Regions from separate parts of the Homo sapiens genome. Here regions 1 and 2 are each linked to region 3. The links come from fine-mapping of genetic effects on gene expression. A gene starts in region 3. Each other region holds a variant in brackets. All regions are shown on one strand. Distances are between the middles of the regions. Region 1 has its middle 2.2 kb from the start of PLTP. Region 2 has its middle 7.1 kb from the start of PLTP. Region 3 holds the start of CTSA (cathepsin A).

The links. PIP is the estimated chance that this variant, and not a neighbour inherited with it, causes the effect.
Region 1: its variant is the best candidate, but not a certain one, in a credible set for the expression of CTSA in whole blood (GTEx, PIP 0.71).
Region 2: its variant is the best candidate, but not a certain one, in a credible set for the expression of CTSA in visceral fat (GTEx, PIP 0.70).

Annotation. Positions count from the first base shown.
Region 1 is chr20:45,912,973-45,915,814 of GRCh38, reverse strand. No RefSeq gene overlaps it. Among named protein-coding and RNA genes, the nearest start is that of PLTP, 2.2 kb to the right of the region's middle. The variant G/A (reference allele first, on the strand shown) is at 1,622.
Region 2 is chr20:45,917,881-45,920,722 of GRCh38, reverse strand. No RefSeq gene overlaps it. Among named protein-coding and RNA genes, the nearest start is that of PLTP, 7.1 kb to the right of the region's middle. The variant G/A (reference allele first, on the strand shown) is at 1,392.
Region 3 is chr20:45,890,003-45,892,502 of GRCh38, reverse strand. CTSA (cathepsin A) reads right to left here and starts at 1,168. Exons shown (of 15, transcript NM_000308.4): 1 at 1,124-1,168; 2 at 741-934; 3 at 476-587; 4 at 180-230; 5 at 19-105. The coding sequence starts at 934. It overlaps NEURL2 (neuralized E3 ubiquitin protein ligase 2), which reads left to right and starts at 1,295. Exons shown (of 2, transcript NM_080749.4): 1 at 1,295-2,253. The coding sequence starts at 1,512. It also overlaps a transcript of SPATA25 not described here. RefSeq lists enhancers at 832-881, 1,121-1,830 and a silencer at 922-1,191.

The DNA of each region.
Region 1 (2,842 bases), 23 kb before region 3:
GGTGACAGAGTAAGACTCTGTCTCAAAAAAAAAAAAAAAAAAGAAAAAAAGAAAAAGAAAACGAGAGGAAAGGCCAGATGTGGTGTAACACCAGCACTTCGGGAGGCTGAGGTGGGTAGATCTCTTGAGCTCAGGAGTTCAAGACCAGCCTGGGCAACATGGTGAAACCTCATCTCTGTGAAAAATACAAAAATTAGCTGGGTATGGTGGCACATACCTGTAGTCTCAGCTACTCAGGAGGCTGAGGTGGGAGGATCACCTGAGCCTGGGGAGGTTGAGGCTGCAGTGAGCCGTAACTGCACCACTGCACAGCAGTCTGGGCAACAGAATGAGACCCTCTCTCAAAAAAGAGGGAAAAAAAGAAAGAAAAGAAGAGAAAACAGCCAGGTATGGTGGTGCACACCTGTAGTCCCAGCTACTTGGGGGGCTGAGGTGGGAGGATTGCTTGAGCCCGAGAGTTGGAGATCAGCCTGAGCACATGGTGAGACCCTATCTTAAATAAATAAAATGTATTTTGTTGTTGTTGTTAAAAAAAAATAAAAAAGGGCCAGGTGCACTGGCTCATGCCTGTAATCCCAGCACTTCGGGAGGCCAAGGCGGGCGGATCACCTGAGGTCAGAAGTTCGAGACCAACCTGGCCAACACGGTGAAACCCTGTCTCTAAAAATACAAAAATTAGCTGGGCATGGTGGCAGGCGCCTCTAGTCCCAGCTACTCGGGAGGCTGAGGCAAGAGAATCACTTGAACCTGGGAGGTGGAGGTTGCAGTGAGCCGAGATCGTGCCACTGCACTCCAGCCTGGGTGACAGAGCGAGACTCCACCCCACAAAAAAAAAAAAAGAAAAGAAAGGAAATAAGAGGAAAGAAAACTAACATCCACCAGGTTTTCTGCTTGAGCCAGGCTCTAGGAAGGTTACTAGAGTTCAAAGGAACACAGATACTTCCTCCTCTGGATACTCTTAACACTTTCTCTGTTCTCCCTCTACACCTTTTCTGCTTTGTTTGCTCGTGGTATGTGCCCCTAATTAAGATAGCTAGCATTTATTTGGCACTAATGATGTGTCATGTACCAGGCCCATTTATTCTTGCAATAACCTTAAATTATTGTTTCCATTTTAGGATGAGGAAATTGAAGATCTGAGTGCTTAAGCAAGGGATCAATGTCATACACCTAAGAACTGACAACCTGGGGTGTAAACTCTTGTCTGTCAGACACAAGAGTCTAAGTACATAACTACCGGGCTATAAAGCCCACCTTCCACTCTTCCATGAACAGTCTACGGATTCCCTAATAGCAGCCACAGAATTGCTTCAACCTCTACTTCCTGTTAAAGAGGGTTCATAATAGTGCCAGTCTGACAGGTTGTTAAGGTTAAATAAATTACCTAGAATTCGGATGACCAGTTGTAAGGTTTCCCAGGGACTGAGTGGGTTCCCAGGAATGGTTTCAAAATGGGGATGGCTGGATGTGTGGCTCACGCCTGTAATCCCAGCACTTTGGGAGCCCAAGGCAAGAGGATCACTTGGGTCCAGGAGTTCAAGATCAGCCTGGGCAACATGGTGAGACCTGTCTCTACAAAAAATACAAAACTTAGCTGGACATGACATGGTACCACCTGCCT[G/A]TAGTCCTAGCTACTCAGGAGGCTGAGGTGGGAAGATCGCTTGAGCCCAAGAGGTGGAGGCTTCAGTGAGCCGTGATTGTACCACTGCACTCCAGCCTGGGCAACAGAGCAAGACCCTGTCTCTAAAAATATAAATAGGCGGCCGGGCGCGGTGGCTCACGCCTGTAATCCCAGCACTTTGGGAGGCCAAGGCAGGTGGATTGCCTGAGGTCAGGCGTTCGAAACCAGCCTGGCCAACATAGCGAAACCATATCTCTACTAAAAATACAAAAAATTAGCTGAGCGTAGTGGTGGGTGCCTGTAATCCCAGCTACTTGGGAGGCTGAGGTAGGAGAATTGCTTGAACCTGGTAGGCGGAGGTTGCAGTGAGCCGAGATTGCGCCATTGCACTCCAGCCTGGGCAACAAGAGAGAAACTCCATCTTAAATAAATAAATAAAAATAAATAAATAGGCTGGGCATGGTGGGTCACACCTGTAATCCCAGCACTTTGGGAGGCTAAGGCAGGCGGATCACTTGAGGGCAGGAGTTCAAGACCAGCCTGGCCAAAATGGCAAAACCCTGTCTCCACTAAAAATACAAAAATTAGCCAGGTGTGGTGGCACATGGCTGTAGTCCCAGCTACTTGGGAGGCTGAGGCAGGAGAATCACTTGAACCCAGGAGGCAGAGGTTGCAGTGAGCCAAGATCACACCACCGCACTGCAGCCTGGTGACAGAGCACGACTGTGTCTCAAAAAAATTAATTAATTAATTAAATAAAAAAGGAAATGGAACTATTTTTGTGAATCTGTGGATTATATCAGAAAAAAAAGACACAATGGGGAAAGTCCTAGGCAAATCAGGATGAGTTAGTCATCCTTCCTAGATGAGTGTTTGGTGCTAAATACATGCTCAGCAGACATGATTATTGCTTCCCCTTTCTTTCGTCCATTTGGCAACAAAAAGGTGGCAAGCACCCACTCTGTGCCCTGTCCTAGGGTCCGGGAACCCTGTAAGCAGTAGATGGAGGTGGGGGTGGGGGTGGGGGCGGGGATGCTGTTCAGAGCACCTTGCTCCAAGGGTTCATTAAAAAATCCACCAGTGGACCGGGCGCGGTGGCTCATGCCTTTAATCCCAGCACTTTGGGAGGCCGAGGCGGGCGGATCACAAGGTCAGGAGATCGAGACCATCCTGGCTAACACGGTGAAACCCCGTCTCTACTAAAAATACAAAAAAAATTAG
Region 2 (2,842 bases), 28 kb before region 3:
GTAGAGGCTGGAAAGCCCACGTGGAGTATAAGGAAAGCACAGACGGTTAGGAGGCTTAGAGGACCACAGAAAGAGGTCCCCATGAGTCAGAGTCAGCTAGCAGACTGACAGAGGCATAGAAACTGGGAAGAAGGGTGGGATATGAAGAAGAAAAGAAAAGGGAAGTCAGAGAGAGAGTGAGCTGCCCAAGGCTGACATCCGAGCCCTGATGGAGAGGCACCAGGTGTGGGGATACAATGCCCTAGGACCGAGGACCCAGGGAAAGCAACACCTCATAAGGAACCTTAGAATCCTTGAGTTTCTAATCTGGAGGTGACTTCAGACACCAAGTGGCCTGTTCTTCACACAGAAAATGGACTGGCCTTCAAGGAGGAAATGGGAAAGAAAGAAGAAAACAACAGATCTCCCAGCTTTAGAAATCACGGAAAGTCAGTCCACAGCTTTGGCCTGGCTGAACTCAGCAAGCCCCAGCCCTTTTAGATTCCTTTTACCCATTTGGTAAATGTCCAGCCCTCACGCGGACTGTTTTGTCCAGTTGCATTCTGGAAACAGATGATCATTTCGCCTGTCTGGAGAGATGTAATCGGGGTCTTCCTGGCCTGAGATTTGTCCTCCTCAGATAATCCTCCTCTCATTCCAGCTGGGTCCCCTGTCACATGTCCCCAGGTGCACCCATGCTGACCAACACAGGCGCATGAGCTGCAGTGCTCATATGCTCAGGCAGAGTGAGGAGAAGGGGGTCACTCCCTGAGGGGTAGCTGGGGTGGGCGTTGGGGGTGGGGACTGGGCAGGAGAGGAGATGGGCTGACGCAGCTTCTCCAAGCCATGCAGAGATCCAAAGAAAACACAGCTGGAGGCACAGCGAGGGAGGAGGGGGCCAGAGCAGTGCATGTTGACATGTTGGGCAGCAATCCAGCTTGGCCTCCTGTGGTCAGTGGAGCCCGTGTTTACTTCCTTGGACCAGTTATTTCCTCGTACTGAACCTCAGTTTCCAAATCTGCAAAACAGGGCCAATAATAGCTATCTCAAGGCACTGCTGTGAGAGTTACATGGGATAATGAAAAAGAGAGAGACAGAGAGAGAAACCTAGTTACAAGCATAGGCTCTGGGGCCAGACTGACTTGAGCTTATAACTGCTGGGCCTCAGTTTCCTTATCTGTAAACTGGGGGTGAGGATACCTATCTTGTAGGATGTTATGAAGTGTAAGTGAGTTAATATGTGGAAGCACTTTCTGGCCAAGTGTGGTGGTTCACGCGTGTAATCCCAACACTTAGGGAGGCCGAGGCAGGCAGATCGCTTGAGGCCAGGAGTTTGAGATCAGCTTGGTCTACACAGTGAGATTCTATCTCTACAAAAAAATTTTAAAAGTTAGCTGAGCATGGTGGTACAT[G/A]CCTATAGTTCCAGCTACTCGGGAGGCTGAGATGGGAGGATTACCTGAGCCCAGGGAGGATGAGGCTGCAGTGAGCCATGATCGTGCCACTGCCTTCCAGCCTGGGTAACAGAGTGAGACCCTGTCTCAAAAAAGCACTTTCTGTTTGTTAAGCAACTATGACAACTATTAATACTAATAATCAGGCCAGGCACAGTGACTCATGCCTGTAATCCCAGAACTTTGAAAGGCCAAGGCGAGAGGATCGCTCGAGCCCAGGAATTCTAGACCAGCCTGGGCAACAAAGTGAGAGCGCCCCACCCCGCCACCAAGTACTAGGTTCCACACTTTGTATACTTTATCACTTTAAATCCTCACTGCCACCCAGGGAGGTAGGTAAGTACTAGATCATCCCATTTTACAGATGTGGAAACTGAGGTTCAAAAAGTGTTTTTTTTTTTTAGAGACAGGATCTTGCTGTGTCACCCAGACTGGAGTTCAGTGGCACAATCATAGCTCACTACAGCCTCGAGCTCCTGGGCTTAAGCAATCCTCCTGCCTCAGCCTCCCAAAGTACTGAGATTATAGGCATGAGCCACCATGCCTAGCCCAGAAAGAGATTTTTCATTTCCTCTGGAACAGGGGTTGGTAAACTATGGCCTGTGTGCTAACTCCAGCTCCCAGCCTGTTCGTTAGATATTGTTTATGGCTGCTTTCATGCTAAAGTGTAGGGCTGAGCAGCTGCGATAGAGACCACAGGGTGTGGAAAGCCTAAAATATGTACACTTTGGCCTTTTCAGGAACAGCTTGCTGACATTTGTTCTAGAAAAAGGCAGAAGCAGGACTTTGCTATCCTGATTCCTTTACAGGAACAGCTTGCTGACATCTGTTCTAGAAAAAGGCAGAAGCAGGACTTTGCTATCTTGATTTCTTACCAGTATTGCTGTGCTGGGTACACAACTGAGGCTGGAAAGGCACTTCCTTCCTGTCCCTCTGAGTGCTGGGAAGCCTCTCCTTCTCTCTTCAAAGCCAGGGATGAGGCCGGGCGCAGTGGCTCATGCCTGTAATCCCAGCACTTTCAGAGGCCGAGGTGGGAGGATTCCTTGAGGCCAGGAGATGGAGACCAGCCTGAGTAACACAGTGAGACCTCATCTCTACAAAAAAAAAAAATTACAAACATTAATCAGCCGTGGTGGTGCATGCCTATAGTCCCAGCTACTCAGGAGGCTGAGGTGGGAGGATTGCTTGAGCCCAGGAGGTCAAGACTGCAGTGAGCCAAGATTGTGCCTCCGCACTCCAGCTTAATAGGCAGAGCCAGACTCTGCCTCAAAAGACAAACAACAACAAAACCAGGAGTGAAAGTGGGAAGGGATTTGGGGATTTGGCTCTCTCCATGTCTCAAGCCCGGTGATGAGCACTCGAGGAGGCTGCCAGAGCCCATCCCACGCTGCACATCTGCTGACATCACTCTT
Region 3 (2,500 bases):
GGCAGGCACCAGACTCACCTCAGTGTCATTAGTTGCATAAAACTTGTCATCGGAGTAGGAGAAGCCCACCCCAGCTGGGGACTCCAGGTATAACACATTGGCAATCTAGAGGGGAGGGAAAAATTAGCTAAATGCCACCCCATCCAAGTGCCCAGACACACCCACAGCTCCAGCTATACCAGATTCCAAGAATAGGGGTTGTACTCCAGGGTGACACCATCTGGCTGGACCTGAGGAGGAAAGAGATGGCTGAGTAAGTCCCAAGGGCCAGCTGGGTGGAGGGAAAGGGCCACCATGAGAGGCACTTTACATGTGGGTAAAACCTCTGAGAGGTACAGGCAGCAAAGCCAATGGCATAGAGGAAAATCCCGAGGCTTAGAAGGAAGGAAACTTTTTGGAAAATCACAAAGCCCCTCTCTCGCTTTCCCCAGCCTTTTACTTTGGGAACTGTGCTTTCCCCCTGCTGTCCACTCACCAGGAAGGGGCCATGCTCTGTGAGGAGCCCATCTAGTGAGCTGCAGCCGGGACCCCCATTGAGCCAAAGCACCACAGGGCTGTTCTCGGGATCCTTCTGGGACTCCACAAACCTGGGAGGGGGGTCAGGGCAGGGTTGGCGCAGTTGGAGGGGCCCTTTCCAGCCCTCCCGGCTCCCAGGCATCCTCAGGGGTCTGCAGAACTACCCCCCATCCCTCATCCGTCATCTCTTCTCCCAATCCCGCCCAGAAGGCAGGGCGGCAGACCAGTAGTGGAGGTGCTTGGAGCCGGAGCCTTTGAGGTAGCCGGAGTACTGGCGGAAAGACGGCTGCTTGGCCAGCCCGGGGAGGCGCTGGATCTCGTCCTGGTCGGGGGCTGCCTCGCCTCGGGACGCCCAGGACACTAGCAGCAGCAGCAGCAGCAGCAGCAGGAACAGCGGCGGCGGCGCGGCTCGGATCATCTACGGGAGGCAGCAGAGGGGCTGTTGACTCGCTCCTCAGCGCTTCCGTGCAGCAGCCCCCGGGGAGTTGCTGGCGGCGCCTCCGCGAGGGAAGCCCCGGCCCCAGCGCCAGCTCCCACCCGCGAGCCTCCTCTGCCGCGCACCGATCCCGGGCTCGGGGATCCCCTCCAGCCTCCGGTGCCAGCTCACCTCTGCTCCCCCGCGTCCTTGCTCTCCAGGAGGCGCCCGGGGACTGGAAGTCATGTGTACGAGTCACGTGAACTCCGGCGCCACGTGACAGTCTTCCTCCCGCCCCTTCTTTGGTCCCTACGGACCTGGGGGGCGGTGGCGGTCAATGCCGGGTCAAGGTCCGCGGGCCTCGCAGATCGTAGCCCGGGCGCACGCGATCAGATGATCCTGTTGTGGACGGCTAAGTTGTAGGCGGGATGGCTGAGAAAGCGGCGCTAGGACCCCCGGGCAGAGGCTCGGGGAAGGGAGTCAGGGGGGAAATGCCTTACAAGGTCGCCTTGCGGTCACCATCATTGCCCGCCGCCCAAAATAGCCCCCGGCGCCAGCTGGCCTGCCCTATGGCCGAGAGATGGCTGCTGCCTCCGAGCCCGTGGATTCGGGTGCACTCTGGGGACTCGAGCGCCCGGAGCCCCCTCCCACCCGCTTCCATCGGGTGCACGGTGCCAACATCCGCGTGGACCCCTCTGGGACGCGGGCCACACGCGTGGAGAGCTTCGCCCACGGCGTGTGCTTCAGCCGCGAGCCGCTGGCCCCGGGCCAGGTCTTCCTGGTCGAGATCGAGGAGAAAGAGCTGGGCTGGTGCGGACATCTGCGTCTCGGTCTGACCGCGCTGGACCCCGCCAGTCTGGCCCCCGTTCCCGAGTTTTCTCTGCCCGATCTGGTCAACCTGGGCCACACCTGGGTCTTCGCCATCACGCGCCACCACAACCGCGTGCCCCGGGAGGGCCGCCCGGAGGCGGAGGCAGCGGCCCCCAGCCGACCTCCAACCCTCCTCGTGGAACCATATCTGCGCATTGAGCAGTTTCGCATTCCCCGGGACCGCCTGGTGGGCCGCAGCCGGCCAGGGCTCTACAGCCATCTCTTGGACCAGCTCTATGAGCTGAACGTGCTGCCTCCGACCGCGCGCCGTAGCCGCCTGGGTGTCCTCTTTTGCCCGCGCCCCGATGGCACGGCCGACATGCACATCATCATCAACGGCGAGGACATGGGCCCGAGCGCCCGGGGACTGCCAGCTGCGCAGCCCCTCTACGCGGTGGTGGACGTGTTTGCTTCCACAAAGAGCGTGCGCCTTGTCCAGCTCGAGTATGGCTGTAGGTATCCCTGGGCAGCGACCCCTCCTGGCTCAGTGTGGGGACTGGAATCTACTAGGGCTCCGTAGCCCATGTGCTAGGCCTTCGTCTGTCCGGCACTAGTTTAAGAGTGGGAGAATCTAGCTTCAAATTGCACCTCTGCTTGTGATCTTGCACAAGCCTCTACATGGTTTTGGGCCTTGGTACCTATCTTGGTTGATTGATTAAGATGCCCTACAAGTTCCCTTTTAGTTTTGATAGTGTTTCC